Homo sapiens: one gene and its partners. The protein of the gene in region 2 binds, or shares a complex with, the protein of the main gene of each other region. Each region holds a gene or a part of one and is shown on either strand. Other genes may lie near its edges. The genes, in order: NTRK2, FRS2 and FGFR1.

Region 1 (10,333 bases), on a different chromosome or scaffold from region 2:
CAGTCCTTTCTCTAGCATTCCTGTGTCACCTCTACTGGACTGTTATTGTTATCATTTTTTTCCTGAAGGATGCTGTCATTCCATACATCTCATTAACATGAGATTTTATTCGTATACGTGGAAGATTGTAAGGCAAAGTTTCTCCCAGTTTTCCTTATTGTGTTTGATACTGAGATAGGCAGCCCTAAAGTGGGGCTTGGGCTGTGGCCTTCCGGTTGTCGAGTGCGCATGCATTTTTCCTTCCACAGAAAACATACAACCATGTTTCTGCCAACGTAGTTGACCAAGATAACCTGTTTTTTAATGTAAGTAAGAGACCTTCCTAGTCTCTGTTGCCTGTTCTGCTGCTGATGCTTATGGTGTAAGCCTCAGGCAAAAGGAAATGACAGCAGAGCAGAGGGGAATGTTCAGGCCTAGCATAGCTGAGATGTGTCGGGAGCAGCCAACTGTCGGGCTGAGTCCAGGGTGCTAGGATCTCTATCTTTTTGGCAAGGAGAGCAGGAGCCAAGAGCGGAGAGCAAGGGTGGATAGGGCCCCAACTGTGGTGGTCTTGGACTGGGCTGGTTGAGGCTTACCAGGCTGGTCCAAAGTCTGTGGCCTTTTGTCAGAATCTTTTTCATGAGATGGGGTGTCAGTAGTTAGATGGAGAAGGCCATATGGAATTCAGAGTGCTTCTGACTGTTTTGAGATTATGGGGAGTGCCTTCCACAGTCAGATATTGTTGTGTGTGTGTGGTGGTGCTTTTAAAATTCTGTTTTAGGTGATAGATGCATATAATGAAGAAAGAAAGAAGATAGGGCTGATCATTTTCACTTTGTTTTTCTGTTTGATAATTTTAAGGCCATGATCTGAGAAAAAGGAAATAAAACTATCTTTAAATCTAAAAAATTATTATTTCAGACCTTCCTGATCTTAGCTGCCTGATGTATATGAAATCAATTGATTTCAGCAGAGCTTTCTTATATCTGTCCTCACAATTGTTGTTGCTTCTTTTATATCTGATGGCAGGTTCCTATTTTCAGCTTTTTTAAAGTAGATTTTAAAAATATTTACAAAAGCATGTGTCATAGTTATTCATTCAATCGTGGCACTTCTAATTTCTACTCTAACTTTTTTCCCTTTTGATTTGAAAACCTCTTGGGGTTGTGGGATTGGAGAGGTATATAGGGCTAAGTGTTGAGAACAGGGAATTAGGTTAGTAATATTAGTCTGGCTGGGTAGATGTGAGTCCTGAGACAAAGTATGTTTCTCTGCTCTATCTCAGCTTTGTGTGAGCCCAGCCAGTTTGTGCCCCAGTGCCTTTGTCTGTAACTCGTATGACAATACTTCTTTGGAAAGTACTCCATATAATTATTTTGAATTCTGCTTTTTTGACCTAAAAATGACATCAGTGGATGCGCTTGTTTCACTCGCATCCTTATATGACACCATCTATGTTCTTTTTCTTACATATTAATATTTGCTTGCACAGCTTTTAAATTCTTGTCCAGTGGATACCAGCTACAGTTGGAACCAAATTATACATATTTTAAAACTTTGTTGTTAGGCCCAGTGGTATTCCTAAAATAACCTGTTGTAAAGTTCTGGTTTAGTGGTATGTAGCTGAAGTTACGTGCGTCTATTTTTTAAAAATAGAAATAATGTGGTGAATAAACTGTGATTAGCAACACACAACTTGCTGAAACAACGGTTTACCATATCATTCAAAAATGGTGTATCTTTTAGCATCTATATATTAAACCATCATGCCCTTAGGGTTCTAAGAACACAAATAGTGGGACATTAAAAAAAATGTGTAGATTAACCAAGAGGTAGGATCTTTTTGTTTTGTTTTGTTTTTACATGCATGCTTTCAGCTAAGCTGACATTTTGTCTTCAGAGTCATTGAACCTATTTTATTAAAAATCTTCCCATCACAGTACCTGTTTTATATTTTTTGCCCACTAATGTGACATAACTAGATCAATATCTATCTATAGGTATGTATCACGCCTGCTCAACATCACACTGCTAAGTGGCAGCTCCTGTTATTTGGAAATGGTTATACCACAGCAGTGTTAAAATGAATTTAAACGCAGTACCAATGTCACATGCAATGGAATTCAAGAGTGAAGCCTGTTGTTGGAATTATGTAACTGGCCGTTTAAATCCCAGTTGTATTAAGTGCCAAAGTGCATTGCAAAGGACAAGTTCTGTTTCACCCAAGTGGTAAAAGGCACAGTCAAAAGAAGTCGTGCATTTTTTTAGCTGTGGTAAAAAAAAAATACATAACCTAAAATGTACCATCTTACAGTTCAGTAGTGTTCTGTGTATCCATGTTGCTGTGGAAGGGCATGCATTTTTATGTTGCACGTGCTTTATGAAGACTAATAGGGATCTTTTTTTTGAATTTCTCCAGTGGTATTCTCTGATTTGGGGGTAATATTTGAGAACAGCCTTATATTTTTCCTCTTAGCACAACCTAAATAGAATTTGGAGCTTCTCCTATGACAGACTCTATGTGCAATTTATTGTTGGCCTGGTTAAGCAGCTGTAATGTTGTGTCATTAATACATTGATTTTGGCCCTCTTACTTTAATAAGCTTTGCCATTGCAATTAATTGTACTTAAAAAAAAATCCTGGCATTCACAAAGATTCAGTGAAAGGCATCAATTTTTATTACTCTGATGTTTACTTCTCAGCCCCTCCATTGGGGGTTTTAGAACTTTGGACTGTGTCTTATATGCATTTAAGAGCCATGTATTTAAATTTGGAGCACGGTTACATAAGCCACACTAGACTTGTTAATGAATAAGGCAGTCTAATTTACATCATTCATTATTTAATACAACTTGCAAGCTGGAGTTGAGAACATGCTGTCTTCATAGTGTAGGTATTTACAGACATCAGCTTGGCACAACTGTGTGGAGTCTTTTTAGTTTCATACCTTCAATCTCTGCAATATGGACACTTTTGTTACCCTGGGTAAAACAGTGGAAAAGCCTTGTGACCCTTTTGACCCTACTTTCTTCCACCTCCCCTTCCATCACCCATTATTTATACAGGAAAATGGGTTTGATTTTTTTCTTCTCTGAAAAGTGATATTTCCTTATGGGAATTCAGAATGCTGGAGTTAAGAGAAGAGCCTGGGCTGTATGTTATTACAAGCAAGTATTGGGAAGTTGAAGCAATGTGGTCCCAGTTCCCTAGTGTGGAGTTTAGGTCTGTTTAAGGTCTCTCACTGTTTCTATCCCATAAACCTCTGTTTGTGTCTGCTTCAATATTCCCTTATAAAGGTGTTTTCTAAGCTGAAGAGTTGGCTGAACAGCTGAGAGTTGAGGTCTCTTTCTCCCTAGTAATATTCTGTATGATCTCTTTGACTATATCTAGGTCATAGGAGTATAAAAACTAGTGTTTTTGTTTAGCTGGGGAAGGGGAATTGAATTTCTTTTCTCTTCTCCTTTCTTTCTTTCTTTCCTTTTTTTTTTTTTTTTTTTTTTTTTTTGCCTTGAGTGTTAAGCAAGTGCATCCAGTTTTAACTCATTGGTCATCTTGCCTGCTAGGGAAAAAAACATTATCAAACCATTATTGAATACCATAAACTGGCCTTATCCCTCTGGCTAACTTTACCACTTCTCTAGAGAGTTTCTTGTAGGTTCAAAAGCTATAGCGTAGGATGTGACATGAAAGACCTGCCCCTTGGAACAATGCCAATTTTTAGTTGCTTCTGATGCCTGTAATCAATAGGAGGATTTGGGGGAGAGACTATTGAAGCATGGCAAAGTTTTTACTTGTTTGATGTGTGTTTGTGAGAGAGAGAGAGAAAGATAGAGGGAAGAAAAAAAACCCTGAATCTTGGATTATTTATGGTTGATCAATCATTTTTATAGTCTACTTGGTTGAGCTATTTTAAAACAAATCCCACCTCAAGCCTCAAATGGCAAAGATCTGAGCTCCACTGTGGCCTGATAATTTTAGCTCACATTTGATTGCTGATCAATCTCCATTAGAAAAGTAAAGGTCCCATATAACTGGGTGCCTTCTCACCACTTACTTTGCTCTCTGGGGTGTCCAAAGGACTGGGAAGTTATAAATATTGATCTGGGAGATGGATGAGTGAATGTGCTCAAAGTTACAAAAATCTTGCAAAGAAAAGCAATGTGTAGATACTAAGTTTATTCCTTATGTGTTTCAAAAAATAAAAATAAAAAAGCATATCATGGAAAGCTGAAGTCAGGAGACCTGGAACTTCATCCCAATGTCACCACTACCCAGTCACTACCCAGTTACCTGATCTTGAAGCAGCCTTTTAATGTTTCTGGGCCTCAGCTTGTCACATGTAAACTGAGGGCTTTGGATTTGATGCTCAGACAAGTTTCTCAAGGCTCTGAAGTTCCCTGAAGCCTCGGTCACGGAGATAAGGAAGTGTATACATCAGCTGTGAAGGAAGGGCATGATACAAGGTGCTCGGGGTCTGGCAGTGTGTGAATCTGAAGACCTTTGGTGTCAGAGTGTTATGTGGAAATGTTTTCAGTGTCTGCTCTGAACTCCCTCAAACCATGTCTTTTTAAATGTGAGCTGCTAACAAGGCTAGTGGCATGTTAGTACTGGTCTGATGAGTCCAAGGTCACAGGGTCAGTGTTCAGATGGGTCACTTAGAATCGGAACCTCAGAAAGAGAAAGGGCTTTAGAAATGATCTGCTTCAGCCTCTTCTTTGCAAAAATCAAGGGCAGTGAAGAAAGTTGCCGAAGGCCGACTCATTAACAGCATTGTGGGAACTAGAAGCTCCTTCTCCTAGCATCCAAATGAATGCTGGGGGCCTTTGCTTTAGGGTGCCTCCCCTCCGTTCTGTGTTCTCAAACAGACCGCCTAATTCTGGCTCATCATTTTATTAGGTTGGTGCGAAAGTAACTGTGGTTTTTGCCATTACTTTTGCACCAACCTAATAGAACCACCATAAATGGGGAGACAAGTTTAACATGGCTAAGTCTGTGCAAACTCATCTCTGTGAGAGACCAAGTAATTGAAAAGTGCATGAGCTACTGATCTGAAAGCAATCATCTTATCTTCATATAGGAAGAAATATATTTTCTGTTTAGCTTACTGTGTGTGAGTGTGTGTGTGTGTGTGTGTGTTAAATTTGAAGTGTTCCTCTTCTTTAGGCAATTCATACACAAAAAATTTGAGCTTCAGAGAAAAGCCTTCATGAGTTGGCAGCAATGAGGTATGCTAACCTTGGGCCTGCTGGGCCATCTTTGCAGATTGGCATTAGAAGAGGGGCAGAGCAGACAGAGTGAAATGAAACCTGTTGCCCCTGGAGTCTTTGCCACAGTCGGGGGTGCTTATGTAAGTGGAGAAACCCGCAGCCCTTTCGATGAGGTCTGTGTTAGCTGCCCTGAAAGACCTGTGGCCAGAGAGTACTTATTATTCCCCGACTTCTTTCTTCCCCCTGACTTCTCAATGCCTCAAGATTGATGACTAGTCTCAGTGGCTGAGCCAGTGAGCAAACTTCAGGATTATTGGCTCCCATCCAAAATTCATCCAGCTACCATTTTATGTGTTGTTCGTGTTCTGCTCTGAGACCTTTCCAGGAAAAGCACCCTTCTGAGACATATTTTTGGTTGCATGAAGATTTGCTCCCATGGGACGTGAAGGGCCCTTTACAGACATCTGCTTATTTAGGTTTACAGCCTCACTCTGAAGAAGGTGGGGAGGTTTTGGCAGCCTCTGAGGGGCTGTGAGGTTTATTAGTTTGCCTGGGCCCCTTGGTAAAGCAGAGCATAATTTAGGGGTAGGATCCTATCTAATGTCTCATTTAGGGCTCTGTCTACTCCAACCTTGGTGCCCAAATTTGACCTCGAGAGCCAAGGCAATTCTAGGAGAGGTCTAGAGATTTGAATTCATGTTCACAGATTAAACTTCATGCAGTGGGAAGGAGGTGGGCTGGTGCTTCATCCTCTGTCTTCCCCACCCCTATCCTCTTCTCCTGTTCAGCTCCTGAGCAGTCTGATATATATTGTGAAGAGATAAATGATTTGGTTGCCTTTGGTAATATGGCATCTTCTTGTACAAAATAAAACTGTTAATAATCACACACCATTTAGAGTTCCTTTTTTTATGTCAAATAAGGACAAATTGCTACTTAGCATCCCATCCTTTCCTGTAATCTTCATATCCCAAGAATTGTCTACACACACACACATAGACACACACCATAATGTTGTATGTGTGTACCGTGTTTTCATCAATACATAAATCTGTGTATAAAACTCTGCCATGTGTAATTTGTTCAACTTAATTATCTTGAGTTGTAAAATTTTCTGAATAATTGAGAATGTGCTTCCCTAAACCACTATTTTAATTTTGTTTTTATCATTCTGGATGTCCCTTGGCCAGGATCTGGTTGGGCTGTCTTCTTTGAGAGAAGTACTTGAGCATTAGTGCATTGACCCTGTTAGCCGACCTGGTCACTCAGAGACCCACTGTGTCTATCTTCTGATTCTTTGATATCTTCTCAACATAAACGAACAATGTAAACAAAATTGAAAGGTATCGGAATTTTGGTTTCAACCTCTGCAATATAGTGCAATTTAAAAAGAAAGGATCTTCTCAACGCTAATCTTTGTAACAAGAGTTGTTTCTACTTCATGTACCCCAGAGTCCCTTGCTGTGAGGTGGCAGAGGGGCCTATGCCTGAATTGTCTGACTCTTGCTCACTGTGTGGCAAGTGACCTCTCTTTTCTGGGCTTGGCTTATTCCTCTGTGTGATGCATGTGTAGGGGTGGAGGGTGCTGGGCAAGAGAGCTTGACATCATAGCCCCTAGATTCCCTGGTAAGGTGTGACAAAAAAACACACAACTATGGTGAAACAAAACAAAACAAAACAAGTGTCTTTCTCCAAAGAACAAAACAAAACCCCAAACCAGAACACTCTTTTTAGTTTACTCCCAATTTTACTTCAAAACCCTGCTGCTACCACCCAAACTCAAAGAATGTTATAGATGATATTGCTCCTTGGTTATTTCTTGTGTGCGTCTGGTGCTATGGCTTGAATGTTTGTATTCTGCCAAAATTCATGTGTTGAAACTCAGTCACCAGGGTAGTGGTGTTGAGAGGTGGGAGTTGATTAGGACATAAAGGCAAAATGGGATTGGTGCCCTTATAAAAGAGACTCCAGAGAGCTTGTTTGTCCTTCCTGCCATGTGAGGACACACATAGAAGGTGCCATTTATGAGGAATGGGCCCTCACCAGATATGAAACCTCCCAGAACCTTGATCTTAGACTTCTCAGCCTCTAAAACTGTGAGCAATACATTTCTGTTGTTATAAATTACCCAGTCTAAGATATTTTATTTTAGCAGCCCACATGGACTAAGGTACATGGGTTTGGCCTTTCTCTTTGCAACTCTTCAGCCTCTTTCTGTTTCTGGTGGTGTTTCTTATCCCCTTCTCCTCTGTTCCCAAATCACAGACATATATATACAAACAATCATTTGGCTGTAAACCCCCTTTAATGGATTGTAAAGAAATCTTGACTTGTGTACTTTTTTCTGGTGGACGACCTGTGGGCAGACCATCATTGTTTCAACTGAACCTGGCTTGGTAAGGTTAACACAGTGGGAAAGGCGACAAAGTATAGGAACGTGGTATAACTGAAAGGAGCGCTGGTTAGGGATCTAGGATTTTGGATACCCACTCTCTGACAGTATCAGGGTCTGGGATTTTGGTTGAGCCACTTGACCTCACCAGCCTGACTGATTTCATCTTGAACCTGGAGGCTGTGACACTCATGCATGCTACTCCTTGAAAGACTCTGTGGTTCTGAATCAGTCAGCCATGAGCACTAGTGTTTCCTTTTCTGTTCAAGAATTCACCATTGCCTTCACTCCAGGGGCAAACAAGAGCCTGCTTCAGTTCTTTTGGTGGCTAAACAGCAGAAACCTGACCAGTAGGTTTTCTTTAAGTCCAGCTCTGCCGTTGAGGCTGGATGGTTTTGCAGGTCACCAGCTTCCTGCCATCCTGGGTGACAGCCCTTCCATGGTTTCCCACCAATAGAAACAAATTTTTATTTTTTTCCCTGGGAGTAGTGTTCAAGACTTTTTCAGCCCATTCCTGGCCCACTTCTGTGGATGAGGCTCTGGCAAGTTTTCTAACTGACCTCTTTGGTTAGTCTCTGTTTTCTGTGACCCCCAAGAGCAGAAGCTTTCATGGACATCAAATCTTATTTTTCTGCTCATCAAGTTGTCTTTTCATCTTGGTGGAATAGTTTGTCACATTTCCTGATTGTCATGTGGGTGGGCTGCCATCATGCAAAAAGTAGTTCAGTGTCACTAGTGTTATTGAGGACATGGAGATGTCCAACAAACAGGGTACTCTGCAGAGGCAAGGAGCCCCTGAGCAGCTTATATCTAGCAAGAGACAGATGCATACACATCTAAACACTCCCAATAGTGGGAAGCATTGATGTGTAGATGGGATGTGAGTAATTCCCAATCCTTACTTCCTATGGTAGCAGTAATCCAGCTGAGTTTCATTATTTTCTCTCTGTCAAATAATTTTTGATATTCCTGGGGCCACCTCCACTCATACTGCATTAGAGTAAGCTGCAACTTGCATCTGCAACCAGTTACGATGGAAGGGCTGGAGCGCCTTTCAGCTGAAGCTAATCACTCAACCTCGAGCTTTTTTCTATCAGCAATTTTCCCTCTCTCACATACCTGTATTTTCTGTTTCTTTCTATTGTTCCACATTTTAAGATAAGAATTGAAGCAGGTTCATGTTCCTCCCATCTTAGAAAAGTTTTTCTTTAGTGTGATTCCCTCCCTCTCCTTCTGCTCCTGACTAAAGTACCTCTCCCTTCAAAGCCAGATCTTGGAAGAGTGATCTGTATTCATTATGTCTATTTTCCTATCTCTTATACCAGTCCCATTCCACTGTTTTTCAAACTCACTTCACCATAGTCCCCAGAAGCCTTCATGGGCCATATTGCTCTGTCCTTATCTTACTTGACTTCTTAGCAGAACTTGGCTTCATTTCTCACTCCCTCCTTCTTGAAACATCCTTTTCCTTTGGCCTTGGTGTCACCACACTTTTCTTGTTTTCCCTCTATCTCTCTGCATGCTACTTGTTTGCTTTATTTGTCGGTTCCCTTTTCTCTGCTCTTAAAAACAGACCTTAAAAGTTTATGTCCCTTGGGATTCTGTCCTATGGCTGCTTCACTTCCTGGGCTATCTCTGGGCTACATCACCCTCATCCATTACTTATGTTACCTTCTTTGTGCTAATGATGTCCTAATCTGTTTCCCCATCAATTATCAGTGAAGACCTTTGGACTCATGTGTGCAATACCCCTCTCAGATACAGGAGAGTGTGTCACACTTCTTATTTCTAAACAAAATTTTTCATTGTTGCCCCAAACCCATTGCCAGTGTTCCCTATTGTAATGAATGGCACCATTATCCACTCAGTAATACAAGCCACAAACCGTGACTCTTCCTTCTCTGTAACCCCTACACTCATTCACATATTACGTCTTGTCAATCCATTTTCCTAAGTATTTCCTAAATCTAATTTTTAATATTTCCACTGACATTATTCAATCATTCTTTCAACAAATATTGATTGGGGTCTTCTCTATGTTGGGAACTAGCTAGGTACATGGGATATGGTGAGAAAAACTGCCCTGGTCTCTTCTTACCGGGCTTGCAGTGTGTGGGAGTGGGGGATGGGGAACAAACATCTAATAAGTACTTAACATAAAAACAATATAATTCATGCCATCATCATCTTTTGCCTAAAATGCTGCAATCGCTTCCTATTTCGCATCCCCGCCTCCAGTCTTGTCCCCTCTCTGCCCATACGCCACACTGTAGCTGGAGCGGTCTATCTGAAATGCTGATCTTATCCTGTCACTGCTTATAATTACCCTCTGGCTCCCAGTGTCTCTTAAAATAATGCCTAAAGTTGTTTATTTTTGTTTCAGTTTTTAAAGAATAGAACAAAATTGTCACTATATTGCTATATAAAGAGGCATATAACTATTACATGGACCAGAATGCACAGATCAGCATAACAGTCTTTTTCTACACCAGCAGCTCTATAAAAAAGAACAAATTATAACTGGAAGCTTGCTTGGTGATCTTGGAATTAGAGCAAGGGCATTTAATTTTGCATTTAAAATGTTAAATGGCATTAAGCTAAGCTTGCCTGAGGCATCCATCTCCATAATGGGAGAGCCTTCACAAAGGGAATGTAGAACTTGAAGTACTTTGGCCCAGACTTGTATCCCCTGGATGGACACTCCTTTTCCTCTCCTTCATTCACTGCCCAACACCAATGCTGATTGATGTATTC
Region 2 (10,401 bases):
GAGGATGATTATTATAGTATTTAGTAATTATGCAGTGCTTTATACTTCAAAGAGCTATGCTGTGTAATCATTTATTAGCTATGTCTCACAACATCTCTAAGATATAAAGATGCATTTATCATGCATATTTTGCAGAAAGAGAAGCTGAGGCAAGGTAAGATGGGCAGTGTTTTGATAAAAAAGGAGTAAGAGTGGAAGGCAACCTCTTAAATTCCTGATACTACGTAATTCAATGTGGACAACAGAAATTTAATTAATTTAAGCCTTTTAAAGAAAAGTGCCAGTTCCAGTACTTTTTCATGATATTTAGTTAAAAATTAAATGTAAAATATACCAAAGGTTGATGAGCATTCCCTTTTAAGTTCTCTATTTTTGAACTTTCTCTGCATTTGTGTCAATGTGACATTTTTGCTCAAATTCAACCTTGACATCTCCCATTTCTCCACGCAAGCAGGATTTGACTAGAGATACTGGTTTTCACTGTCAGTATTATATGGCTTCAAATTTCTTCCGTTGTTTGTGAAACCACGTGCATAGGATTCGTTATGATAACTTTCAACAGAAACAAACTTCATGCAAGAACTATATGGGAATTAAAAGAAGTTTTAGACATGTGGCAGTTTGTCCATTTCAAAAATGATTATAAACATGTCAATATGAGGGGTGGGAGAGGGAAAAGGATCTATGTGGGTTTATTATAGTGACCTGTAAAAGGCCTGGAAGAGATTTATACATTCTTCTATAAATCTGGTTGTCTCTTTCAGTTGGGAGGCAGTCATGGCCATGGCACATAGAAAAGGATCAATAAATATTAGTTTAGTGGTTATGAGTGTGTCTCTGGGGACAGACTGCTTGGATTCTAATCCTGACCTCATCATTTGCTAGCTACCTGAACTAGCTTTGCTTGTGTCTCCATCCAGGAAAAAATAAATTAAAAAAATATATATATACCCTATAGGGTCGTTTGTCATCAAATCTATTTAAGTAATTGCTATTATTCATTTTTTGTCTTTCCAAGGCTGTTGACAAATAACATTAGCTACAACTCCATTAAAACGTTGGTGGTAATGATATTTATAATTTGATGTCTGCACTTGCCTTGCTTGTTTAGAAATGGTACAACGTGGCCAGGCATGGTGGCTTACACCTGTAATCCCAGCACTTTGGGAGGCTGAGGCGGGCATATCACCTGAAGTCAGAAGTTCTAGACCAGCCTGGCCCAACATGGTGAAACCCGGTCTCTACTAAAAATACAAAAATTAACCGGGCATGGTAGTGGGCACCTGTAATCCCAGCTACTCGGGAGACTGAGGCAGGAGAATCACTTGAACTTGAGAGGCGGAGGTTGCGGTGAGCTGAGATCGTGCCACTGCACTCCAGGCTGGGTGACAGAATGAAACTCTGTCTCAAAAAAAAAAAAAAAAAAGTACAGTGTAGTACCCCACAATTGCTATCCCAGAAAAACAATTTAAAATTACCTCAAAATACATTGAATAGTTATGAGCACATGTAAAATATATAAGGCAAAATTCTATACTTGTTTCTTTAAAACATCCATATGATGTTTTGGGACCAGTGGTCCCAAACTCTGTCTACCATAAAGATACCACATGTGGGTAAGGCCAACTCATTGCACTGTTTGATGAAGAGAGATGCTGCATCTAGCTAAAGTCACTGATGCCTTGTGGATGCATGCCAGATGTCTGCCAGAGTGTTTAAATTTTCAAGGGATGCCAGAAATTGGGATTTTTTTTTACATGACATTTCTCAATTTTAAAATTTTGACTCAATTTATTTCATGGTACAAAACTCTCTGGATCAAACAATACATTTGTCAAATCTTTGCCATAAATATTTACACTAATACATATGTACTAGTTACACTGTGCTGTTATTCAAAGCAAATGTTTTTGAGGCATGAATAAAAGATGAGGAAGACAAAATATAAAAAGGTCTTCAGAAACTCACAAGTCTAGTGGGGAGATAGGCAACAATGTCACAGAAAAGAGTGAAAAGTGTCACAGTAGAGTGTGGAAGTTAGAACTTAAGCTGTGTGGTTAGGATCAGATCTGCATTAAACCAACAAACAAAATCAAAGAACCCCATTATTTCAAAGCTTGGCAAAGGGTGGACACCCAAGTAGATGGCTCTTTTGTTTAACAAAACACCTTAATGGATTTTGGGGGTAGGAGCTATGCATAGACAGGGCCACAGCCTTGCACAGTTCCAGGGGGCATCATTTGTGTTTGTCACCTCTTGAGCATCATTCATGTTGTATTCTTTGTGAATAGCACCCCCTGGAATTGCACAACATGGTAATTGTGTCAATAAAGGTGGCCTGGAGTCTGGCCTGAGATGAGGATTGAGAGTTAAATCCTTCTACATAATAAAGTAAAAGGAATTTTAAGTCTTTCCTAGTGGGTAGAGGCAGGCGGGTAGAGGGATGCCTGGAATGGACAGAAGAAAAGGGTTAGGAGAAAAGACATCTCTAAGATGAGGATGGGCCAGCAATTTGGCAACAACCTGGAGCCGAATGAGCCTGGTGAGAGATTGCTTGTAATTTTTGCAAGAGATGCATACAATCCTCTGTCATCTTCTACCTCCAGGAGACACTGGTAAATGAAGTCAAACAACTTTTTCTTTGGCACTCTTCTTTATGAATCAGGAGATAATTGGGAAAGACTTCACCGTCCAGAATCACACAGCAACACTTGCCTAAACATACAATGCCTTAATAACTTGCCTTTTTACTGTTTTTCTTTAAAAAGCTGAAAGTGCTTACACTTTCATTTCCTCATTTGTTCTGACATTCCAGTGTGGGTGGGGCAGATTTATGATAACATTATTTATAGATGGAGAAATCGAAATAGAGATTAAATCGCTTAATCAATGTTGCATAGCTGGGGCAGTGGAGCCCACAGTGGAATTTGGTTCTCCAGGCTCCAGCCACGAAGTGGAAAGAACATGAGTTTTGGAATTAGAGGGATCTTTGCACAATCCTGATTCTGCCCCTTAACAAGAATGTGGCCTTAAGTCAATTACTTCACCTAAGTCTCAGTTATCCTCATCTCTAAAATTAAGACCATAAAACCTCATAGCAATGTAGTGAAGATTAATTTAGAAAACGCGTGTAAAGCCTTGGCATAGAGTAATTCCCAAATAATATTAGTTCCACCCCCAACCCAGTATTATCTGGTTACATTTCAGTACAAATTTAAAGTAATCAAAATGAATCCTCCATTATAGTAATTTTTTTTCTAGCCTCATCTTCTTTCACTGAGAGCAAAACATGAATAAAAATCCTTCAATAGGTCATTTAATTCAACGGCAAGAACTTTTGCTCCGGTAAGAGTTATCCCTGTTGGAAAAAATTAGAAAAAAAGAGGAATATGTGGAAGACAAGATATTAGTTCTTAATATCTTATGCAGTGGTTCTTAAACTTGACAGTATATCAGAATCTCCTGGAGGGCCTGTTAAAACACAGATTGCTGGGTCCCACCCCAGAGCTTCTGATTCATAAGATCTGGGGCGGGACCCAGTAATGTGCATCTGTAACAAGTTCACAGATGATGTTGAGAGGCTTAGTCCAGGGACTTCTAGGGGTGGGGCCCAGCAATCTGTTTTAACAAGCCCTTTAGGTGGTTCTGATGCACTCTCAAATTTGAGAACCACTGGGATAGTGGTGAAAAGCATCTGAGAATATGGTCTGCAAATTCAAACCCAGGCGGCTCCATTTACCAGTTAGATGACCAGATTAAATGACTAACCTCTAGCACCTCTGCATCCCACACAGAGCCTGATAATATCTGTGATTCAGGATTCCTCTCACTATCCCTTTAGGCCTTGAGTAAAAAGAGATGTCGGTGAGTCCTGCCAACCCACGCTGTTTTTTACTTCTTCACACTCTGAGGCACAAAAGGCTGCTTGAATTTGAGTATTACGGAAGTATTTGCCAACACTTCTGCGATCACAAAAATAAAGTAAGAAAGCCCTGTAAATAAAGCCAAGAGCAGTGGCATTGTTTGCATCTTAAATTTGTAATAATGGGTTTTCAACTTTTTTCCTTTCCCCTGCCTTTCATAGTAGAAACATTTAAAAATCTTCCCCGCCACCCCCCCCCCCCCCAGTTTCAAGAGATGTTAGTACATTTGTTTTGCAGATAGTATGCATTGCTAAGAGGCTTTTTTTTCTTTCCCTGCATCCCAGATACAGAATCTGCCTCAGATATCTGGTGCCTTTCTGATTTTGTGGCTGAGGAATCCCACGCCCTCCTCCTTTCCATCCCTTTTCCCTGTCTGGTATGTAACTCTGTGGGTCCTCATATTATCACTGCATGGAGCTTCACAAGCACCTGTATTTTTCCAGTTGTAAAAACCCCTACTCTTTCTTTTTTTTTTTTTTTTTTTTTTTGAGACGGAGTCTCGCTCTGTCGCCCAGGCCGGACTGCGGACTGCAGTGGCGCAATCTCGGCTCACTGCAAGCTCCGCTTCCCGGGTTCACGCCATTCTCCTGCCTCAGCCTCCCGAGTAGCTGGGACTACAGGCGCCCGCCACCGCGCCCGGCTAATTTTTTGTATTTTTAGTAGAGACGGGGTTTCACCTTGTTAGCCAGGATGGTCTCGATCTCCTGACCTCATGATCCACCCGCCTCGGCCTCCCAAAGTGCTGGGATTACAGGCGTGAGCCACCGCGCCCGGCCAACCCCTACTCTTTCTTATTTCCTTAACTAATCTTTTCTATTGCCTATTGCTGATGAGGTATAAGAATCGTTAACTTTTATCCAATGCCAGACATTCTGAAATGTTTATCATGCATTATCATTTTGGATTCCTACAATGCAGAGATGATTTTATAACTTGCCAGGGTGAAAAAATAAAAGTAAATAAAAGGAGACAAGCAAAAAGATTCCAGATCCCCACCCCAACCCCCCCAACCCCCCAACCCCAGCTCTCGCCTCTGTTGAAGTCACCAGTGATGACAGAATATAGGAATATAGTTTGAGCCCTGTTTTTAAATAATTTCAAAATCTTGGTATAGGTAGATGAGATTTATACACACGTGAATTAAAATCAACCAACATTTGTGAGATTGGGTTTGGTATCTTTGACCGTTTTTCTCCCCTGCAAGACGTAGATAATAGCACCAACCCCAAGGAGTTTGGGGATGATTAAATAAGTTAATGCACCCGAAGGGACTTAATACAGTGCCTACCACGTAGTAAGCGTTCAATAAATGTTAACTATTATCATTATTTTTTAAAGGAGGCAGATTGGAGCGTAGAGTACACTGAAGGGAGTCGGGAGGCCGGGTGTAGGCACTGGATTCTTGCACCTAATTCTCCGAGCCTCGGTTTCCTTATTTGTAAAATTAGCTGGCTGGAGTAAAACAACTCAAACAGCAGTTAAAGCAAAGGGTGCAGCAGTAGCCGGGGAATCGAGGAGGCGCGGGGCGGAAAGGGTTAGTTAGGAGCCCAGAGGCTGATCTGTGGGCGCCCGGCGAGAGAGGCCCCGCCCCGCCCTGGAGGCCCTGGCAGCTCCGGGCTGAGAGCAGTTCCGGTGCCAAAACCCTTCCCTCCCCCGCTCCCCCGGAAGTGCTTTTCCAAGATTCGGGCCGGAGAGAGGCCTTGTAGGCACAGCGGCTGAGACTCGATCTGCTCCAAGTAGGGGCTCCAGCGCGGGTCGGAGTCTGGGGGTTCGCGCCCGCCGACCCGCGCCCTGCTCCCTCTCAGCACCTGGGCGGACGGTGAGTGGCTAGGGAAACGGACTGGGACGGCCGCGGGCCCGCGTCGGAGCTGGCGTTCTCGTGCCCCCGCTGCCCGCTTCGGGATCCGGGCTGAGGGCTCGGCTGCCGGCGTCCGGGGAAGGGGATTGTCGACCGCCGCGGACTTCTCCGGGCCAGCGGGACGGGAAGAGCTGGCTGTGGGTCCATGGGGTGGGCGGGGCGGAGCCAGGGAGGGGGTTCCCAGAGCTGTTGTTGCTGTTGGGACTCGAGAGTGGGGATGGGCTGGGCCTCTGTTCGTCCGTCCGACCCCCCTCATGTGTGCTGCCCCAAACCTCGCCGCTCCCTAGTTTGGTATTCTGTGTCCGGCCTGGGGTAGTAGCTGGACACCAGACTCAATCTTGGGCTCCAGTTCCCGACTTTTCGCCTCCTCTGGGTCTGTCCTGGGGTCAGTAATTAACCCGGGTCCCAGGGGTGTCGTCTTTTCCCTCCAGGGTGGGGCGCTGCCTGTACATGCCAGGGATCTTTTGCAGGGCTTTTCATCCAGATTTGCTTCAGGGTTGTCCGGGATCGATTTGGACTGGGCTCGGAACCGGTCCTGGATACGTAGGTCGCTGTGGCACCAGCATGCTCTGTATCATCTTTACTCACTTGAAAGCTTGCTGAAGCTGTTGTTGAAGTAAACTTAAAGAAAAAACTTGCTTAAGGAAAATCAGTAGTTTAGACACCCCCTCCCCCGCCTTTTTTTGCAGACATACTAAAAAAAAAAAGATGCTTTTCTCTAATCTACACTCTTAATTCTTTTGGCTATCTGATGTCACAGTTGTATGATGAGTTCATTCAGAGGCTGTACGAATTGATTTTAAAGAGTTGGACAGTTATATCCTTTCTCCCAAAGTTTGTTTACCTTCATATTTGGAACTGTCATTTTTCTTAAGGAAAAATTGTTCTTGGATTTTCTTGAGAGATTCCTTACACTGTTAAAATTGTTGCTGCAATGCAGAGTTTCACACAGGTGGGCAGAGATGTTTTGTTTAAACTTATTCCATGAAGTGTTTACTTCGGATAAACTGAGGATTTCCTAGGGGAGAAAGTGATGTAGGTAGGTTTAGTGAACAGATTTTAGGTAGTAAACTTTACTGCTGAAAGGTTTGTAGGAAATATGGGTTTTCCACAATAAATGGTGATTTAAAAACTTTTTATAAGGGAATGCAGTTACTGCAGATTATTGCTATTAGCAGATGGCCACTGTTTTTGCAGCGTAAAGTATTCACAAATCACCTTCTTGAAACCAGTGACGCTATCTGCAACTCTCATCTTGTGTGTAGATTAGGGTTTATTCTGTAGTTTTTTGGGTACTTATGTCATTCTCTTTCCTCCCACCCCTGAAAGGGGAGGTGGTATCATGAATCAGGAAAAATAGACTGAAGTGACAAGTTCAGTGAGCTTTTCCTATGCAAAGGAAAATTTATTTCAAGGTTGTTGATTTTGAACAGGCAAAGGGTAGATGATTTTTAAAGTCCTTGGAAAAAATTGTGGAGAGATTAGCTGCACAACTTTTCTTTTTCCTCTTCCTTTCTTTTCTTTTTTCTTTCTTTTCGAGACAGCCTCATTCTGCTGCCCAGGCTGCAGCACAGTGGCCCCATCATAGCTCACTGCAGCCTCCAACTCCTGGACTCAAGCAGTCCTTCTGTCTCAGACTCCTGAGTGGCTAGGACTATAGGCACCAACCACCACACCTGGCTAATTTTTTTTTTTTTTTTTTTTGTAGAGCCGAGGTTTCACTATGTTGCCCAGGCTGGTCTTGAACTCCTGGGCTCAAGTGATCCTCCCATCTCGGCCTTCCAAAGTGCTGGGATTACAGTTGTGAGCCACCATCCCCAGCATATTTGCACAACTTTTAAATTTAGATAGAAACTGTAGCTTCTTCCACATGTGAAGTACTTAATTATTTAGAGCATAAGATTGGAATATTGGAATTGAGAGAATCTGGAAAAATAGTTAAGTTAGATGTAGTTACAGATTTGCAGGTATGACAATGTATTTTTAAGGGAAATACTTCAAGAGTTTTAAGAGCAGAGAAAGGTGATTGGGGAAAATCAGATACTGATTGTATTTTTATATTATACAAGTCAATTCAACAAACACTGAGCATTTGCTATGCATGTTATGCTATGTTATGCATAGCATGCTATTTGCTATGCTATGTTAGGTAACTATGTAAGGAGCAAATAAAGGTATAGCCATAACAGTTGAGTTTCATGTTTTGGTAATAATTTCTGAAATCATGAAGAGTTGAGTTGTATTCTTTAGGCATACTAACAATTTTTTTTGTAATTGGGACTTAACATTGGCGATGGGTGTTGAGTGCTTCATGAAAAGCGCTATACTAGGCATTTTAGGATATAAAGATTAAACTTTTGGTTTTTAGGAATTTGAAATCTAGAAGGGGATATAAGATTTGTGTAAACATTTACAACATAAACATTTGTAAATACTTATGGGTGGTTTGAGGTAAAGTTTGGAGTAAATTATACAAAAGAAGAAAGGGTTCATTTTTAGCTTAAGTAATGGAAATTTGTGGAGATAGCTCAGAAGCTACTGTTTATTGAGCATTTACTGAACAGACTTAATGCTAGTTGCTGTTTACAGCATTTTCTTAGCTTCACAGCAATATGTAAGTACCTTAATAATGAGGACAGTGAGGCTCAAATATGTTAAGTTACTTGCCTGGGCTATGTGGCTAGCATGTAACAGCCCCAATTTGAATCCAAATCTGTCTGGTGCCAAAGCCTGTGTGTTTCTACTGCATCATGTTGCTCCCCAATAAACTGGTAACCTGAGTTTAATGTTACAGAGAATAAGACTTTTCTAAGACAAAGATTTATGGATTGGGAGTAGGTGGGTGAAGAAGGCCTTTCAAATAAAGAGAATGATGTGAGCAGAAGTGTGGAGGTGGGAAAGTTCATTGTGTACTTGGAGAAAAGTTAGTGGACCAGATTACCTGGAATATACTGTTCATTTTTGGGAATTAGAGATGAGGTTTGAATTTTAAGTGGGGGCAGGATTGTGGAGCATGTTTAAGTGCTGCTTTTAGAAGTTTGACATTTGGGGAAAAAAAGTTCGACGTTTGGGAGGTAATGAGAAGTTACCAAGGTCTAATAGAGTAGTGTGCAGAATGATTTGATGTGGAAAGCTGACTTTCAATGTAGTATAAATACTGGGCAAGGGCAGTGGTAATGGAATTAGAGTGAAGGCTCTGCAGGACCTCAATGTCGTAGGTGGGTGGCGAGGAGGAGGGGTTTTTGGAGCAGGTTTGGAGGAGATGGAAGGTGAAGATTACACTTTTGTTTTTGAGACAGAGTCTAGCTTTGTTGCCAGGCTGGAGTGCGGTGGCGTGATCTTGGCTCACTGCAACCTCCGCCTCCTGGGTTCAAGTGATTGTCCTGCTTCATCTTCCCGAATAGCTGGGACTACAGGTGCTCACCACCACGCCCAGCTAACTTTTGTATTTTTAGTAGAGACGGGGTTTCACCATGTTGACCAGGATGGTCTCGATCTCTTGACCTCGTGATCCGCCTGCCTCAGCCTCCCAAAGTGCTGGGATTACAGGTGTGAGCCACTGCGCCCAGCTGAAGATTACACTTTTTAAGTGTCGGAGATGTTGACGGTGGTACTCTTACTAGAAATACGGGCAAGGAGGTACGTAATGAGATCAGTTTTGGATTTGTTGACTTTTTTGTATACTTGCCAAACGCTGGAAATGTCCAAAGGCTTTTGGAAATGTGGATTTGTGGTTAAGGGGAGAGGTCAGGACTAGGCATATATTAAACATGGGTTTAGTGAATAATACAAATAGGTGTACTGGTTGAATCTGTGTAAGAAGATGAAAGTGCCAAGGGAGAATGTAGAGGGGAAAGAAAAAAAAAACTTCTGTTTTAAATGGCATCTGTTTAAAACAGAAGGAAATATGCTAAGTGATTTATTTTATGCAGTGGGTAAAGAATTTGATAGTATGTCCACTGCTTCTTCACACTGTAGGTTCACACGGAGTAGAAAGAATCTGATCATTAAAAATCCAATTGGGAAATACAGTTTTCTTGCCCTGGGTAGCAAGAATACTATGCTATCTTTACCCTGTTTCAGGGAGGACAAACTACTTCAGACTCATTTCATCCAGAGTGTCAGATTTGGTTACTTAAAAGCTATGTTAGCTTGTTTCTTTTGGACATTTGTTTGGCAAGTGGTATGTGAGGAGTTGGAAGCAAATCTCTGATACAGTATTTCACTTATTTATGTGTATGACATCGATTTTGGTTTCAAAATCAAGAACCTCTGAATATTCAAAGATAATATTTACATCTCATTAAGGCTGTTAATATTGCTTTTTATAGAAAATGGCATTTGATTACATATTTTTCTTCCAACTCTATTTTATAAGTTCTTTTGATTAACATGATTAGTTTTGGCTTATAATGTTTGGATTATATTAGAGGGATAGAATAAGATACTTTTATCCATTATATGATAACACATATGAAAGTTACATATTTTATTTTGGAAACTGTTTAAGAACTGTAAATTTATAGAATTTTGTGTGGTTTTCTGTTTAGGTATTTAAATAGGGGGAACTTGAGTATTAATGTGTAAAAGATTATAATAGTTTGCAGAATGAGGCTTAGA
Region 3 (11,207 bases), on a different chromosome or scaffold from region 2:
AGGAGGATCACTTGAGCCCAGGAGTTCAAGGCTCCAGGGAGCTGTGATCACATCACTTCACTCCAGCCTAGGCAACAGAGAGAGGTGGCTCAAAAAAATAGAGCCTGGCTCAAAAAAACAAAACTAAACCGAAGTATAAGCCTCTTACAATCACATTCCCAAAGAAAACCACTATTAAAAATTTGGTTAACTATTTTGTTTTGTTTTGACAGAATAATAAAATTCAGTTAGGGGGAAATTTAACCTGAATGGGAGAACACCATCTATTTTTAAATTATCTTCCTCTCTGACCCTACCCAGCCCAATATCGCCAAAGGTTCTTAACAACCCAGGAGAAGTCAGCTGCAACTTTATTAGCATATCCTTGGATGGAATCCGCATCAAAGTTGAATCCTCAAGTATCTCAGCCTAACCCTGAAACTTTGATCTTTGTACCTAGGCAGGGCAAAGCCTAAGGAACTAGGTCCTTCACTCTTGGGGGTGGAGGGCGGTCCTCAGAAATGCAAATTTTTCACTGTTCTGCCACTGCCTCCTCTGTCACCTCTCCAGACCCCAGCCCTTGGATGAGTGGCTTTAACCAGGAGAGGGTTTACAAGTCTGTGTCAGAAAGAGGAGAGCCTTTGGAGAACCCTGAAGAAACACACAGGACAGAAGACCAGCTTGTTTGCATTTAGTGTTCTGAAGGGAGTCAGAATCCTAGACCAGCGACCATAGCTGGAAGGATTCGCTGAGGTTTAATAGGGCCCCTTAGCTTCCCCATATGTGTTCTTGTTGTTTTTCTCTTATTTCACAGTAAAATCTATAACAAAAAGGGCTGTTTATCTTGGGGTACACCAAGGAAGAGGGAGATGAGGGTGAAAAATATATCCTTTTCTGCAGCTGGTGTTGGGGAACAGAGAATCCAGGGTGGAAGTGGGGGTAGAGATGGTAAATACATAAGAAAGTCACAAAGAAGGCTGGGTGCAGTGGCTCACACCTGTAATCCCTGCACTTTCGGAGGCTGAGGCAAGTGAATGGCTTGAGCCCAGGAGTTCAAGACCATCCTGAGCAACATAAGGAGACTATCACCTCCACAAAAAAATACAAAAACCAACTGGGCATGGTGGTGTATGCCTGTAGTCCCAGCTACTTGGGAAGCTGAAGTGGGAGGATTGCTTAAGCCCAGGAGGTCGAGGCTGCAGTAAGTCAAGATCGTGCCACTGCACTCCAGCCTGGGGGAGTGAGGAACCCTATCTAAAAAAAAAAAAAAAAAAAAAAAAGCCACAAAGATATGCAGGCTCCAGAAGGTGTCTTCCATCAAAGGAAAGTTCCTGGGCTAAAAAATAATAATAACAACAATGACTACCATTTATTGAGCATTTACAATGTTCTGGGCGCTTTGCCAAGTGCATTACACACATTTTCTCATTTAATCCTTTCAACAGTCCTGGGAAGAACAGTTACCATTGTTATCTTCATTTCACCATTGAGCAAATGCAGTGGAGCTAACTAGCTTGCCCAAGATCACACAGCTAGCAATAAGTGGCAGAATCAGGACCCATGCTCAAAACTGTTTGACCCCAGAGACTAAGTTCATCCCTTCAGAGCAAAATAATTCGATGCTTCAGTGACTACCAACTGTCTACCCCCCACCCCCACCCCTCAACACAAACTCTCCAGGCTTGCTTTCCTCAGCTATCCCAGATGAGTTTGTGGATTTTCACATTGCCATCTTTCAAGATTCAGGCATCGCTTCCCCTGAGTCATCTTCCTTCCTGATCTCTCCTTCCACAGCCCCCTGCAGATGCCCCCGGGTGGCACTACGTGTCATGTTTGGTCTCCCCCACAAGACAAGTGAGGTCCCCCAGGCTGTGCACTCATCTCTTTCATCTTCGGATCCACTGTGCCCGGCACAGCGCCTGACACACAAGAAGTGCTCCCTGACACCCCCAGGCTCCGTGAATAGATGTGGCATTCAGGCCAGACAGAGCTGAGCTGCCACACAGCTCGCTCCCTTTCTCACTCCAAATTGGCAGAAGAGAGTGAATGTTATTTACAAAAACACCAAGCCAAATAAGACCCTCCCTTCCCTGACATGCTGAAGCTGCTCTGGGAACAGACAGGGGTCACCAAATGGTGGCCAGATGGTGACTGACTGCTGCTCCCTAACTCCAGGGGCCTGGGGCAAAAGGCTTGGCTGCCCACCTGCTCCCAGGACCTGTGAACCATCCACTTTGTAGGGAAAACCCCAGACAGTTCCCTCCTCCCGAATCCCCTTCTGCAACCAGCTCTCGGAGTGGAGACTCTGCCAGCTCTCACCACATCCTGGGGACTCTTGAAGCCTGGGCTGGAAGTTCTGCAACCTTGCCCCATGTCAATGGTGCTTACTTTACCTGACTTGTTCCATAACAAAGAATTGTTAATTCTGCAGTATCGACCCAGGGTAGTGGGGTGATCATTCCTGGTAGGCACAGCTGAGCCCTAAAATAACAGAACCCAGATAGAGCAGGGGCAGAAGGAATGTGGGGAGAGGGGAAGAGGAGCTCCCGTCTGCCAGGGAAAACTCTGAGGACACAAGTAGCTGGAGGAACAGGGAAGGGATTTCCTACAGTGTTCCCAAACAAAGAGAGCTGGCCGGGCTTTGGGGAGAGCTCCGTTTCCCTTCGTTTCATTCAGCAGTGGTCTCCTCCTCCCACAGATGTGGGAGGCAACAGGCCCCCAACCAGTTATCAGGCCCTCCAGCATGAGGGCCTTTGTCTCCCCTTAGACATGTAGCTGGCAGGGCGAAGGGCCGACAAATCCTCCCTGACCCTCCCAGCTCTTTGTTATCTCAGAGGGAAGGTTACATTTCTGTATGGGAGGCAAGGTGCCAGGAGGCCTCGGGCAGAACAGAGACAGGCAGAGCTGCTGTCTGACCCCTGTTGCCTGGAGCAGCTCAGGGCTGCCCTAGGGACACTCTCCCTCCACTGGCCTGGGGCCCTTCCAGAAATGGGAGGGCTACATTTCAGAAAGAGGGCGAGTAGAGGAGTGGGACAGAAAAGGAGCGAGGTGGGCTGGAAGGATAAAAGCAGCCAACTCTCAATTATTCAGAAACCTGTCTGCAGTGTGTGGACAGCCCATGCCTTTGCTGAGTTTCTCACCTTCTCTGTTCAGCTGCCATCAGCTCTTTCCCTGAGAAGTGGAGGAGGGACCCTGGCAAGTTGGCCACTTGCTTTCATTTTGGCTTCTTGATAAATCTATAGAGGATTTTTCAGCAGCAGGCCCATGTCCCTCAACCCCAAACAAGCATTTAGATCATTATCTTTCTGTTTAAATCAAGAACGCATTATTTAGCCTTTTATTTGGGGTTCAAGATACTCCTACAATGGTTCTAAATCATAAGAAAAAGGGGCTTGATTTAAAACCCCTTGTTTTGGGCCAGGAATGGTGGCTCACGCCTGTAATCCCAGCACTTTGGGAGGCCAAGGTGGGCAGATTACCTGAGGTCAGGAGTTCGAGACCAGCCTGGCCAACATGGTGAAACCCTGTCTCTACTAAAAATACAAAAATTAGCTGGGCATGGTGGCAGGTGTCTGTAATCCCAGCTACTCGGGAGGCTGAGGCAGGAGAATCGCTTGAGCCCAGAAGGCAGAGGTGAGCTGAGTGAGCTGAGATCGTGCCATTGCACTCCAGCCTGGGCAAAAAGAGCAAGACTCCATCTCAGGAAAAAAAAAAAAAAAGAAAACAAAAAAAACCCTTTTTTGAGAAGAATTACGGAGCAAAGTAGAAAAATAGTAGCTGGGTGTTAACATTAAATGCTGGATTTTTTTCATGGCTTGTCTTCCCAATCATATTCCCTCAAATTGTGTTTCCTCCTCTGGTAACCCAGGTTGGTTATGCTTAGCAAGTCCATGAACAATAAATATACATGGAAAACCTCCTGTGTAGAATTGGTCAGACACCTAGATAAGATCCTTGCCCTAAAGCAGTTTAGAAACCAGTTAGAAAGAAAGCAGAGTAAGGAAAACCACTAACAAAGCACGGTATCAACTCAGTGGATAGTCAGCAAGTGAGCAGGGGGTCCAGGGACTGACAAAGCTGGGATGGGCAGGGAAGGCCTCTTGGGGGTAGGGTGTGAGTATGGCCTTCTTACAAGCGTGTGATGTGTAGTAATTAAAATGCAGGAGGCCTAATGGGTGGGCAGCTTACATAGGAGTATAAACCAAGCTTGACCAGGAGCTGAAAGGTTAAATGGTGGCTCTTAGGGGAAAACCCTATAAACAGTGGCTGAAGTTCATTTATTCAACAAAGATATGAGTTCTTGTTTCTCATTTTTTGTTTTGTATTATTTTGTTTTGAGACAGGGTCTTACTCTGTCGCCCAGGCTGGAGTGTAGTGGCTGGATCATAGCTCACTGCAGCCTCAAACTCCTGGGCTCAAGCCATCCTCCTTCTTCAGCCTCCACCTCCAGCTAATTTTTAAAAATATTTTGTAGAGACAAGGGCTCACTTTGTTTCCCAGGCTGGTCTTGAACTTCTGGCTTCAAGTGATCCTCCCGCTTCGGCCACCCAAAGTGCTGGGATTACAGGCGTGAGCTGTAATTTAGTTGTTTATTTACTCATTTGTTCAACAAATACTTATTGAATATTTGCTCTTTGGCCAGTCAAGGGATTTCATGAGTGTCTACTATGTGAATAACACTGTGTTGGCCACTAGTCTGTCACCTACTGGTGGATTAGAAAAATAGCGCGAGGACCATTTTTTCTTTTCTTTTCTTTTTTTTTTTGAGACGGAGTCTTGCTCTGTTGCCAGGCTGGAGTGCAGTGGCACAATCTCGGCTCACTGCAACCTCCGCCTCCCGGGTTCAAGCGATTCCTCTGCCGCAGCCTCCCCAGTAGCTGGGATTACAGGCAAGCGCCACCATGCCTGGCTAATTTTTTTGTATTTTAGTAGAGACGGGGTTTCACCTTGTTGGCAAGGATAGTCTCGATCTCCCGACCTCGTGATCCACCCGCCTCGGCCTCCCAAAGTGCTGGGATTACAGGCATAAGCCACCGCACCCGGCCAACTCTTTTCTTAAATTAGCCAGGGAGGCGTGGGTGGGTTGGGTGAGGAGTTGGGTGGGGGGATCTCATTCAGTATTCAAACTTCTACAAGTTTCGGGGTTGAGGTGGGTGATGGTAAGGGAACAGGCCCTGCCACTACCTTTCATAGTGACTTCCATTTGTGTAATATTTTTGGTCCACTGAGAGCTATTATTTTATTTGATTCTTATGACCATCTTGTGAAGGAGTATCAACAGATACCCCGTTTTGATTTTATCAGATGCATGATTTGTCCTACATCAAACTTCATAAATGATGGACAGAATGGAGGAATCCTTCAGACCAAGTGCTGCCTACTTCCCACCCCAATGGTGGCCTCAGCCTGGGCTCACATCACACGCCCCAAGGAGCCTTGGAAAAAATAAAGGCTCTTGGCTCCTTCCTGGGACAGCGTGATTCCTCATGTCTGAGCAGGCCCATGAACTTGTATTTTTCAGACGTTCCCTAGGACCCGTGTCCATCTGGATTAGGGAACCACTACATTATACCACTTCGCGGGAAGACTCAGGGGGAAGCATTTTAGCCACTTTCCTGTGTTCCACAGTACTGGAGGGTGTTCTGAGTGGGCTGTGATTAATTTCCAAACCAACCACACGTCTCCCCTCAACTCCCACTGCTTACTCTTTGCTTCCTAGACATTCACTGCAGGCTGGAGACTTCTGGAAGCCAACAGCATCGCTGTAGAATTTACAGGGTCCAGTTCCCGGTGGACCACAAAACCTAAATTATGTGGCTGGGGAAAGCTGAAATCCAAGGGAAGGGTTTGAGGAGGGGCTGACCTTATAATAAAACCGGCTTGTATTTACTAAGTGTTAACTATGCGCTAGGCCCTCGTTGACGCCTCAACTCTATGTGAAAAGCACTATTATCCCCCATTTACAGATGGGAAAACAGAGATTTAGAGCGCGAAAATCATTTCCCCAAGGCGCACAGACTCCAAAGCCCACGCTACCAGGTACAACCTCAAGGCTGCGGCGTCTCTTCACCTGCCCCCTAGCCCCCAAACCGCTGCTATGTCTAGGGCCTGACATTCCGGCGCCCTCTGGGACGTGCTCAGATGCAGGGGCGCAAACGCCAAAGGAGACCAGGCTGTAGGAAGAGAAGGGCAGAGCGCCGGACAGCTCGGCCCGCTCCCCGTCCTTTGGGGCCGCGGCTGGGGAACTACAAGGCCCAGCAGGCAGCTGCAGGGGGCGGAGGCGGAGGAGGGACCAGCGCGGGTGGGAGTGAGAGAGCGAGCCCTCGCGCCCCGCCGGCGCATAGCGCTCGGAGCGCTCTTGCGGCCACAGGCGCGGCGTCCTCGGCGGCGGGCGGCAGCTAGCGGGAGCCGGGACGCCGGTGCAGCCGCAGCGCGCGGAGGAACCCGGGTGTGCCGGGAGCTGGGCGGCCACGTCCGGACGGGACCGAGACCCCTCGTAGCGCATTGCGGCGACCTCGCCTTCCCCGGCCGCGAGCGCGCCGCTGCTTGAAAAGCCGCGGAACCCAAGGACTTTTCTCCGGTCCGAGCTCGGGGCGCCCCGCAGGGCGCACGGTACCCGTGCTGCAGTCGGGCACGCCGCGGCGCCGGGGCCTCCGCAGGGCGATGGAGCCCGGTCTGCAAGGAAAGTGAGGCGCCGCCGCTGCGTTCTGGAGGAGGGGGGCACAAGGTCTGGAGACCCCGGGTGGCGGACGGGAGCCCTCCCCCCGCCCCGCCTCCGGGGCACCAGCTCCGGCTCCATTGTTCCCGCCCGGGCTGGAGGCGCCGAGCACCGAGCGCCGCCGGGAGTCGAGCGCCGGCCGCGGAGCTCTTGCGACCCCGCCAGGACCCGAACAGAGCCCGGGGGCGGCGGGCCGGAGCCGGGGACGCGGGCACACGCCCGCTCGCACAAGCCACGGCGGACTCTCCCGAGGCGGAACCTCCACGCCGAGCGAGGTAAGAGCCGCGGCGCCCCCGGATCTGGGGCGGGCTTGGCGTCCCGAGCGGCCCCCGGCGCCGGAGCCTCCCGGCTGCGCGCTTTGCCCGCCGCAGCCCAGCCGGGGCCGGCGCCTCCCTCCGCTCGCCGCCCGCCCCTTTCACCTCCTGGCTCCCTCCCGGGCGATCCGCGCCCCTTGGGTCTCCCCTCCCTTCCCTCCGTCCGCGTCTCCTGCGCCCCCTCCCTGCGCTCGTCCCGCCGCTCTTCCCGCCGCCCAACTTTTCCTCCAACTCGCGCTCGGGAGCTGGCGAGGCGGCGGCGGCTCCTCAGTGAGTCCCGGGAGGGACAGGCCCGGGGCGAAGGCGGCGAGGCCCGCGGTTTCCTGGACTGGGGAGGAGGGCGGGAGTGGGCGGCGAGGTGGGATGCGTTGTGTGTGTTATGTGTGTGTGTTGCATTCCACTCCATGTCTTTTTGGTCCCCTTTTGGGGATTCACCCCCAATTCAGCAGGTAGCTTTGGGCTCAACGCTAAAAATCCGGGGCATTCCTAAGTCCTTTTCCACCCCCGGGAAAGCCTGGGGTGCGGGTTGGGGTCGGATGGGGTGGGAGATGAACTGCGGAGGACGTGGAGGGCTAGGTTAGCTTCTCTTGGAATAGGTTTTAAGGAGGTGTCGTCACCAAATGGCTGAATCTGCTTGAGCTGAGAGCGAAAAACGACTCCCCTTTCCAGAAGGGGTGATCTTATGACTTGGACGGTCTCTGAAAGGGTCGGAAGTTTGGGGAACGGGAGGACAACCCACGGTCGTTAAGCCGAGGTGTGGGATGGGGGCGGAAGGACCGTTCGGTCCCAATCTGGTTCCTAGAGGTGGGGGAAGGGATGAGGGTTTTTGTCCGGTGTGGTTCACTCGGCAGCGATGCGTATGCTTCTCTGGCCCAGACCCCTCTGCACCTCGCTTCCCCTACCGTTATGTTTGGGGTTGGGAGAAAAGTGAGGCTACGACCCATGTTTGCGGAGGAATTTTATGGACCTTGTAGATGGGGGTTCATATAGAACACACACCCCCTATGAGGCAGCCAGACACTTTTTTGGTGGTGGTGGGGGGGGGGTGGGGTGTGAAGCCTGTTTCTTGTTCTGAGCCCAGAAGCTATCAACCCTTTTGAAAAACATTACCACGGTGCCTTTCTCCCCCAGCACTCCCCCACCCCCAATTTCCAGATGTAGCAGCCGCATCTGGTTCCGTTTCACCCCACACGGGTACACCGCAGCCGCATTATTAACTTCCCTCTTCCTCCCCTCCCCCTCCCCCAAATTAAAACTCAGATTCTTCAGCCTGTCTTGACCACCTCCCTCCTTAACATTTCTGGAGACTTGGAGATGCGGCGTTGAGATTCGGGGGAGAAAAGAAAGTTCCCTTGGATCCCGAGTTATTTAAGATCTCACCAAGTTATTCGCCGCCGCTGGTGGGTGGCGGCGGTCCGGGTGCTTTCTGGATTGCGCAGTAAAGAGGCATCTTGGGAGATGGGGCCAAGGTTTTAGGGGGTGCCACTCGCGAACGGTTCATCCGCTAGACTAGGGGGGCTCTTTGGCTGTGCGTCTGGCCAGAACTGGCCTTGACGATGGAAGTTTCTGGAACCAAAGCGTTGCTTTCTCTCCCTTGTGTTATAGCTGGAGCTGCGGGAGCGCCTGCCCTGCCCGGAGCCCGCGGTCCCCTCTCGGCTGCCCCGCGGTGGCGTCACGCGCCCCTCCCGGAGCAAGCCCGGTGCGCAGGGCCGGGGGCGTGGGCGGCTGCTGCCAGAGGCGCTCTCTGTGTGTTTTTAAGGACTGATTTGGGCCGCATCCCCCGGAAACTAAAGTGGGGTGTTTTACCGTTTAAATAACGGCTACAGGTTTGAAAGCGGGGTTGGATTTTCGAGTTGTGTTTGGTAATAGTCTTTGAGGCAGGAAAGCGCCTTGTGGTCCAAAGTTGCCGGGAGGGTGGGGAGAGTCGGTGTCTTACCCGCTTCTTTCCAGCCTCTTTCAAATTGAAAACACTTCTCTGGTTTCCTTCTTTGGGCGGTAGTTTTGGAGGCTGTAATGAAATCGCACTTTCTCTAGACGTGGTAATTAAGGTGACTGTTTCCTCCGCAGATGTGCCCTACCCTTTGCACCTCCGGACCAGCGCTTTTTTTGGAATACTATCTAGCCTTGAGACTGTTTAGCAGAAAGTGGCCATTTTCCTCCCTTGGCCCGGGCTCCCGGTTTCCTCCCTGAGGCTTGTTTAAAAGCGAAGTAGCAGGGCCCCGTGGGACGCGCCTTGGTCTGGGTAATCACCCCCACGCCCGGGTCATCCACCTTCCTCTCGGTGACCGAGGTTCAGCAGCCTCTGCTATTGCCGGCCGTCTTTGCCGATGGCCTGCCTCCCTAATGACTTGTTTACATATCCTACCCCCAGTGGGTTAGGAGAAGCTCCGGGGCTGCCCCGACCCTCCGAGTGCAGGGTGTTTGGGGACCGGGAGGCTGCTGGGGCCTGACTCCAGCTGGGAGGGTTATGAACTGCATCAGTGACGAGCTGCTTGAAATATCTGTTGCATTTACTCTTAGTCATAGCTGAGTGTCAGCTTTTTAATGAGGTTCATCCAGATTGAGAGCCACTTGGACTGCGTACTTCACTGCCTGCTTTTCCAAACATGCCTGCAGAAATGCTCATTTTCGAGGTATTTTTCCCAATGGGAATTCAGGCCAGAGTGGGCACCACTTGAACAATCTTAGGGTGCTTCTTTTCCTTGGCCTCTGGCCATGGAGGGTGTTAGACAGTTCCATTAGGTGGCCCTTTGATAGCAAGGGAAGCAAAGGCTCAGGAAGAAATGGAGAAGCGTCCCCCACTCCCTAGGGGCAGAGGATTAGATACATCGGTGCATCCCTCAGGCTGGGCTAGCTTTATTCCTGGTGGACTCCAGAGGGCAAGAAAATTGAATTGAACACTGGGTAGGCAGATTCAAGCCTTAGAGACCAAGGAAAATCCATGGGTTTTGCTTTTAGTGGTGTGCTCTTTGTTTTCAGTATTGACCTGAAACAAGACTCCTAAAATGAGAGATTTGCTGGTATGAACTTGGGGGTTTAGCAGCCGGCTTCTACAAAGGCTTTTTTCTTGCCTTCGTTTCTAAAGTGTCTTTCGTCAAAATGGCTGTTAGTTATAGAACATCCTAGCAAAGTTTGAGCCTGTTGCTGCTGGAGGAAAAGGAGTTAGAATTGATTCAAATGTCTTATTCTGAAAGGGCCTCACATCACTTGATAGTTTAATTTCCTCCTGGGAAATTTGTGTCTTACATTTGTCTTCCCCAGAGCTTTGTAAAAGGCCTGAACGCACCAGGGACTAGTGGGAGCCCAGATGCAGAGCTTTAGAGAAGATTCTGGTGTTTCCAGAGAGGATGAAATGTCAGACTTGGGCTAGGATATTTGTTTTTCCTCCTAAGGTTGCATCTACTTTAAACAGAAATTCTCTCCTCGCCACCATTTATCTCTCCCCTGCAATGAAAGAAACCATGTTTAGGGCCCTCTCCCCCATTTAATAGCCCTCACATGGATGAACTATCCCAAGAATTTGGTGGGGTTCCACTCATAGTACATCCTGTCTTCAAGAGCAAGGTTTTCTAGATTATGTGCAGCAGTTCGTGTTTCACTTGTTGCTTTTTTTTTTTTTTTTTTTTTTTGAGATAGTCTCGCTCTGTCGCCCAGGCTGGAGTGCTGTGGCGCTATCTCAGGTCACTGCAACCTCCGCCTTCCGGTTGAAGCGATTCTCCTGCCCCAGCCTCCCTAGTAGCTGGGATTGCAAGCATGCGCCACCATGTCCGGCTAATTTTTTGTGTTTTTAATAGAGATGGTGTTTCACCATGTTGGCCAGGCTGGGCTTGAACTCCTGACCTCAAGCAATCCGCTGGCCTCGGCCTCCCAAAATGCTGGGATTACAGGTGTGAGCCATTGTGCCTGACCACTTATTGCTAATTTTTTATATGTCTCTTACTTCCAAGGACATTTAGACACTTTTTTTTTTTAAAGAGACTCAAAAAATTAGCATTTCCATTGGACCAACTAAAATTTAGCAAGCTGAGCTGAGTAACTTTCTCCATATGTTTATTAAGTACTTGCCCCCTGCCCTCTCAACATGTGAGTAGAGAATGGTCACTTTGGGGAAGAAATAAGTCTTATTCTCATCTGAAGGGATTAATGTTTTGGTGTTACTTCCTCAATTCTGAAGAACCAAGTTGTCCAGAAATTTT

What was found.
Region 1: the proteins of FRS2 (region 2) and NTRK2 are in contact, whole or in part, in an NMR structure (PDB 2MFQ), measured with the Homo sapiens proteins. Residues at the interface, in NP_001036020.1 of Homo sapiens: Val26, Asp27, Asp28, Asp29, Gly30, Tyr59, Leu60, Cys61, Leu62, Arg63, Arg64, Tyr65, Gly66, Tyr67, Asp68, Ser69, Asn70, Leu71, Phe72, Ser73, Gly77, Arg78, Ile86, Ala88, Lys90, Phe98, Gln102, Met105, Gln106, Ser109; in NP_001018074.1 of Homo sapiens: Pro498, Asp499, Val501, Ile503, Gly504, Met505, Thr506, Lys507, Ile508, Pro509, Val510, Ile511, Glu512, Asn513, Pro514, Gln515, Tyr516, Gly518, Ile519.
Region 3: the proteins of FRS2 (region 2) and FGFR1 are in contact, whole or in part, in an NMR structure (PDB 1XR0), measured with the Homo sapiens proteins. Residues at the interface, in NP_001036020.1 of Homo sapiens: Asn25, Val26, Asp27, Asp28, Leu33, Leu47, Thr49, Arg50, Asp53, Ser54, Val55, Trp57, Leu60, Cys61, Leu62, Arg63, Arg64, Tyr65, Gly66, Tyr67, Asp68, Ser69, Leu71, Ser73, Phe74, Gln81, Thr82, Ile86, Phe87, Ala88; in NP_075598.2 of Homo sapiens: His409, Ser410, Gln411, Met412, Ala413, Val414, His415, Lys416, Leu417, Ala418, Lys419, Ser420, Ile421, Pro422, Leu423, Arg424, Arg425, Gln426, Val427, Thr428, Val429, Ser430.

The regions. Positions count from the first base shown.
Region 1 is NC_000009.12:84,671,867-84,682,199, forward strand, and holds part of NTRK2 (BDNF/NT-3 growth factors receptor isoform a precursor), read left to right. Parts: intron 1-224; exon of another isoform or gene 225-305; intron 306-10,333. UniProt on the Homo sapiens protein: Receptor tyrosine kinase involved in the development and the maturation of the central and the peripheral nervous systems through regulation of neuron survival, proliferation, migration, differentiation, and synapse formation and plasticity.
Region 2 is NC_000012.12:69,464,789-69,475,189, forward strand, and holds the start of FRS2 (fibroblast growth factor receptor substrate 2), read left to right. Parts: upstream 1-5,599; 5' UTR 5,600-5,742; intron 5,743-5,900; exon of another isoform or gene 5,901-5,918; intron 5,919-6,004; exon of another isoform or gene 6,005-9,420; intron 9,421-10,401. UniProt on the Homo sapiens protein: Adapter protein that links activated FGR and NGF receptors to downstream signaling pathways.
Region 3 is NC_000008.11:38,463,746-38,474,952, reverse strand, and holds the start of FGFR1 (fibroblast growth factor receptor 1 isoform 1 precursor), read left to right. Parts: upstream 1-6,317; 5' UTR 6,318-6,972; intron 6,973-7,228; exon of another isoform or gene 7,229-7,281; intron 7,282-11,207. UniProt on the Homo sapiens protein: Tyrosine-protein kinase that acts as a cell-surface receptor for fibroblast growth factors and plays an essential role in the regulation of embryonic development, cell proliferation, differentiation and migration.